Regions from separate parts of the Homo sapiens genome. Here region 1 is linked to region 2. Evidence: fine-mapped expression QTL. A gene starts in region 2. The other region holds a variant in brackets. All regions are shown on one strand. Distances are between the middles of the regions. Region 1 overlaps CIAPIN1 (cytokine induced apoptosis inhibitor 1). Region 2 holds the start of DOK4 (docking protein 4).

Region 1 (3,023 bases), 46 kb before region 2:
ACTATTTTTAAACTTTTAATTTTGAAATAACTATAGATTCACAGGAAGTTGGAAAAAACAAAAAAAAGTTCTGTATATTAAGGAGGTCTTCACTTCGTCCCTCCCCACAGTTAACATCTTACCCAATTATAGCATGATATGAAGACCGGGAAATTGATATTGATGGTCCACATAACTTTTTCAGATTTCATTTCTTTTATATGTACTCGTTTGGCAGAAGGGGGCTATATAGTTCTATGTAATTTTATTATATGTGTAGATTTGTGTAACCACCACGACATTCAGAACACAGAATTGTTCTATCACCACAGGAACCCTCATACTACCCCTTTATAGCTCCACCAACCCTTTCCTCCCACTTCTAACCTCTGGCAAACTCTGATCTCCACCGCCACAATTTTGTTATTTCGAGCATATGAATGGATTTGTACAGTACAGAGCCTTTTGAGATTGGCTTTTTTCACTCAGCTACTTCCCTTGATATCCATCCAAGCTGATGTACATATAGTTAGCTAGTTCATTTTTATTGCTGCATCACTTTCCATATTATGAACATATCAAAGTTTATTCACCTGCAAAAGGACCCATTTTTAGATGGCAGTTTCCTTCTATTTTATTACATAATGAGTCAGCCAAAGATTACAATTTCTCCAGATATGTTGCTTCAGATTTTAACAATAATTTATCCCCAAGGAAAAGGTTTTGCTACAGGAATACTGATCTCCCAATGATACCTCCTGCTCACGGAGATGCAGCACACATACTCTAAGACTCAACCCTGTCAAACATGTTTTCCAAGTGAAGATCTCCTTACCTACAGCTGTCTCTACTGGCTCCTTCAGAAAAAGACATCCACCAGGCCGAAGGATCCGGGCGATTTCAGCCAAAATCTCAGCACTGTGCAGAGTGGTGCTTCCTGGGACTAAACCTGACAAAATAATGTCAAAGCTGGATTCTTTGTGGGCAGCTGAAAAGAAGAGGACTCTAATTAGCAATCTCCTGAGCCTGGGATAATCTCCTGGTCCCTTCCAACCCCCAACAAAAGCTACAGACCTCACCCTGAGAGAATGGACACCACTCGATATCCATCCAAGAAGCTGGATGAATAGTAAGTGTTTTAAAAAAACATGGAATAGCTACCAAGAAAGAACATACTTATGGAAATCATCAACTACACTCCTAAGCTCTGCTGCAGGAAGTGAGGGACCCCAAACGGAGGGACCGGCTGAAGCCATGGCAAAAGTACACAAATTGTGAAGATTTCATGAACATTTATTAGTTCCCCAAATTAATACTTTTATAATTTCTTACGCCTGTCTTTACTGCAATCTCTGAATATAAATTGTGAAGATTTCATGGACATTTATCACTTCCTCAGTCAATACTCTTGTGATTTCCTATGCCTGTCTTTACTTTAATCTCTTAATCCCGTCATCTTCATAAGCTGAGGATGTATGTTGCCTCAGAACCCTGTGATGATTGCGTTAACTGCACAAATTGTTCATAAAGCATGTGCATTTAAACAATACGACATCTGCGCACCTTGAAAAAAGAACAGGATAACAGCGATGTTCAGGGAACAAGGGAGATAACCATCAGGTCTGACTGCCTGAGAGCCAGGCGGAACAGAGCCATATTTCTCTTCTTACAAAAGTGAATAGGAGAAATATCACTGAATTCTTTTTCTCAGCAAGGAACAGCCCTGAGAAAGAGAATGCGTTCCTAGGGGGAGGTCTCTAAAATGGCCACTCTGGGATGTCTGTCTTATATGGTTG[C/T]AGATAAGGGATGAAATAAGCCCTGGTCTCCCGTAGCACTCCCAGGCCTGTTAGGACGAGGAAATTCCCACCCAGTAAATTTTAGTCAGACCAGCTGTCTGCTTTCAAACCCTGTCTCCTGATAAGATGTTATCTATGACAATGCGTGCCCGAAACTTTATTAGCAATTTTAATTTCGCCCCAGTCCTGTGATCTCGCTCTGCCCCCGTTTGCCTTATTTTATTGCCTTGTGAAGCATGTGATCTCTGTGACCCACACCCTATTCGTACACTCCCTCCCCTTTGAAAATCACTAATAAAAACTTGCTGGTTTTGCGGCTTGAGGGGCATCACGGAACCCGCCGACATGTGATGTCTCCCCCGGACACCCAGCTTTAAAATTTCTCTCTTTTGTACTCTTTCCCTTTATTTCTCAGACCAGCCGACACTTAGGGAAAATAGAAAAGAACCTACGTTGAATTATTGGGGGTGGTTCCTCCGATATATCTCAACTGAAAAACAACAGGGTGACCAGCCACCACTATCACATGCCACCCTAAATGAAAACTCAGATATCAAGGAACCACAGAAATGCAACACTCCCATGGAAACCCCTCCAGCCTCATAAAGACAACGTGGGTGGGTACTTACATTGCAACAGCTGCTTGATGTTTTCCACAGACACGCGGCCCTCATTGCCGGTTAACGCTTGAAGCTTATCCACCAGACCTTTCAGAGCCTCCACTGGGGATGACTTATCCCAGACCACTGCCACAAACTGGCCAGCAGAGATCCCAAAATCTGCCATTCTTGCAGTGCAGTACTGACAGACCTAAAAACTGCTGGCCAAAAGGGAATCAAGACTGGGCAGAGACAAAGTGCAATTTAATCTGTGAGATATCATAAAATATGATTAGAATCCCAACCTAACTTGTAACCGCCCACTAGGGAATGCTGACAACATTAGAAACTCTACTGTATATGCTAAAGAGTCTGAATACATGAACCCCATTATCTCAAGTCTTCATAAGCCCAACATTCCCAAAGAAGGCAGATAGCTTCCTTGGTGAGAATCCTGACTTGGAAGAGTCAAGAAAGGGGATTAGAGGCAAGTAAGAAGGTTGGAGGCAGAAAGATGATTTCCTCTTTGACCTAAGATAATTCAGCATGAACGGAATGGAAAACACACAGGACATCAATTAGGCAAAGTGTGACTTGGCAAGGAAGGCAAATAAATTGACAGAAATAACCCAACCACAGATTCAATGTT
Region 2 (2,752 bases):
CAGCTCTATCCCAGCTCCCAGAATGGTGCCCGGTGGGAAGGAGATGCTCAATATTTGGGGGCTGAACACGTAATTCTCTCCAGGACTTGTCCTCCTCCCCATCCTTTCTTCCACCACCACCAGCCTCCATCTGGCTGGACCTGGCTCAGCTTCCAGAGGTGCGTGAGCCACAGTGGGCTCCCAGCTCCTGGGTCTCAGCGCTGACTGGCATGGCCAGCAGGCTGTTGTTACTGGAGAACCAGCTGTGCCCAAGACCCGCAGTTTGGTTCAGAGCTGCCTCAGGGAAGAGCATGCTGCTGACATCGAGGCCAGGCCTAGTTGGGCGGCCCCACCTTGGCCAGGGTTGTGGGGTGAGGTCATGCCCAGCCCTGCTGCCCTGCCCAGGAGGGAAGTGCTGGGAGTAACCAGTACCAGCACAGCAAGGCAAGCAACTGGGGAGAGGAGGCACAGCTCCTGGGATCAGAGTTGGGGGTGGGGGCAGGAAGAGCCTGTACCAGCGCCACATCCCTCTGAAAGGGTCCAGGAAAGAACCTGCCCTAAGCAAGCCCACCTCACACTGCCCAAGTGGAGTCTCCTAGAGATACTGCCAGGCCCCTCGCTGCCCTGGCCATCAGACCCCTCCAACCCACACCCTCCATCCAAGCGGAAGCGCCCCAGCAACTGACGTGTCCCCATGGCTTGGGGCAGGCAGGCTGCACAGAGCCCCTGCTCTGCCACATCACCCAGGTGCCCAGCCTCGGCTCATGCCCCTTTTCAGTAATAGAAAGCATGTAACTGGATCTAGGGCCTTGCGGGCCCTGGGGGAGAAGGTGGACAGGACCTTGGGGGCCAATGGAGAAAGGTTCAAGGACAGGAGGCAGCTGGCCATGAGTTTGGGCTGTGGGGAGAAACCCCATAGGCAGGAGGGGGTCGGCAGTGGGGGCCAGCTGGGGTACAGAAAATCATCTCTTGGAATTTGGAGGAGGTGAGCGAACAGGAGGCCCCGGGGAGGAGCAGGAAGGCAGAGAGAAGGTTGGGAGCTGCCAGGGGCTGGGTTATGCCCCTTCCGGGGGGGCAGGCCCGGGAGCGCAGGGCCTGGGTTGCTCGGATGAGGTTTGTGTGGGTGCGGGTGAGGTCAGCTCGCGACCTGGGCTCCCCCGGAGAGGAAAGCTGCGGGTGGAGAGAGCGCAGGGAGTTTCAGGGCCCAGGCACTGGCTTTTGGGGGGCGGGTCTCTAAGCTCCCCACCCGAGAGTAGGAAGGTCCCATGGGACGGAGCGTCCTCAGGTTCAGGAAGTGACTGAGGGTCCTCAGGGGTGGGAGTCGCCGAGACTCTTGCAGGCTCTGGGCGGCCTATGTCCCCCTCCCTGCCTCACGCCCCCCAATTTACCTGGGCGCCGAGGCCCGGGCCAGGAGCGCCTGCTCAGCGGCGCCGCGGAGCAGGCTCATGCCCGCGTCACGGCGCGGCTGGCGGGGGCGGCAGGGCGGCGGCGGCGCCGGGCTCCAGGCGGGGACGGCGAGGGAGGCGCGGCCGCAGGGCTAGGGATCGGGCTCCGGCTGGGGCTCCGGCTGGGACTCCGCTCCGCTCCCCCCTCCGCCAGGTCTCGCCGCTGCGCCCCGCCCCCTGCCCCGCCCTGGCGGCCGGCCCCCGCCGTATTCCTCCGAGCCGCGGGACGCGCGATTCTGCCCTGGCGCCCTGGCACCCCCGCACCCGCTTCAGGTCGCCCCCGGTACCCCCAGCTCATTCCCACCGCCCCTCCCTGGGCCCCAAAGCCCACATGGCCTCTCAGCCCCTGAAAGCTGAACTCCACATCAGCTCCCAGCCCCCACATCTCAACCCCTTCACTTCTTCAGGAATCACATACACACCCATACGCCACATCAGCTCCCAGCCCCCATATCTCAATTCCTTCACTTCTTCAGGAATCACATACACACCCATTGCTCCCCTAACCCCATCATGACTCTCTGGGCCCTCACAGCCCAGCTCTCCCAGCCCCACAGTGACCTCCTCTGCTACCCCTCCTCAAGTAGCCGCACCAGCACCTCTGTCTTCCCTGGTCTCCTCTCCACCCTCAAAACATCCAGTTCTCCCATTCTAGGTCCCCCTGAGACTTTGCCCTCAAGCTCAAACTTCATTCCCCTTCATTGCTGCCCCCACCCAGCCCCCAACCCCCTCACCTCTGCCCTTCGGGCCTGTGCAGTGGTTGACTCACTGATCTGTCGGAATCCCCAGTCACAGGCCTCAGCTGTGCCAGGCAGGGACAAGAGAAGTTGCCCAGTGCCTCCTCTGGGGAGGAGCTGTCCCCCCTCTGGTTTTCACGTCTGTACCTTTTTACACCAGGGCTTCTCAAAGTGTAGTCCCTGGACCAGAAGCTTCCCATCACCTTGAAACTTGTTAGAAATGCAAATTCCCTGCCCTACTCAGACCTATGAAATCAGAATTTTTGGGGGTTTCCAGCAGAAATGTGTGTTTTAACAGGCCAGGTGATTCTGATGCACACGAATGTGTGAGAACCACTGCTTTAGACCATATATACAAAACAAAACAATAGGCCACCTGAACAGCCAAAATCCTGAGAAATGAAAATACCTCCACATCCAGCTACTGTCCAGGTGTCTCAGAGGAATAGGCCTAAAGCAGTGAGGGACCAAGGATCCCAACACCCACCCATGGAATGCATGCCCCTGCCCCGGAGACGCCTGGGCCTCAGCCTTGCCCAGGGAGCTTAAAAGGAGGCTGCCTCTGGATGTCTGAAAATTTCCCTGATGGTC

The links. PIP is the estimated chance that this variant, and not a neighbour inherited with it, causes the effect. A credible set is the group of variants that fine-mapping cannot tell apart.
Region 1: its variant is the best candidate, but not a certain one, in a credible set for the expression of DOK4 in thyroid (GTEx, PIP 0.67).

What each region holds. Positions count from the first base shown.
Region 1 is chr16:57,438,368-57,441,390 of GRCh38, forward strand. CIAPIN1 (cytokine induced apoptosis inhibitor 1) reads right to left here. Exons shown (of 9, transcript NM_020313.4): 2 at 2,405-2,616; 3 at 815-967. The coding sequence starts at 2,561. Among named protein-coding and RNA genes, the nearest start is that of CIAPIN1, 7.5 kb to the right of the region's middle. The variant C/T (reference allele first, on the strand shown) is at 1,776.
Region 2 is chr16:57,484,938-57,487,689 of GRCh38, forward strand. DOK4 (docking protein 4) reads right to left here and starts at 1,556. Exons shown (of 9, transcript NM_018110.5): 1 at 1,368-1,556. RefSeq lists an enhancer at 809-1,605 and a silencer at 1,437-1,736.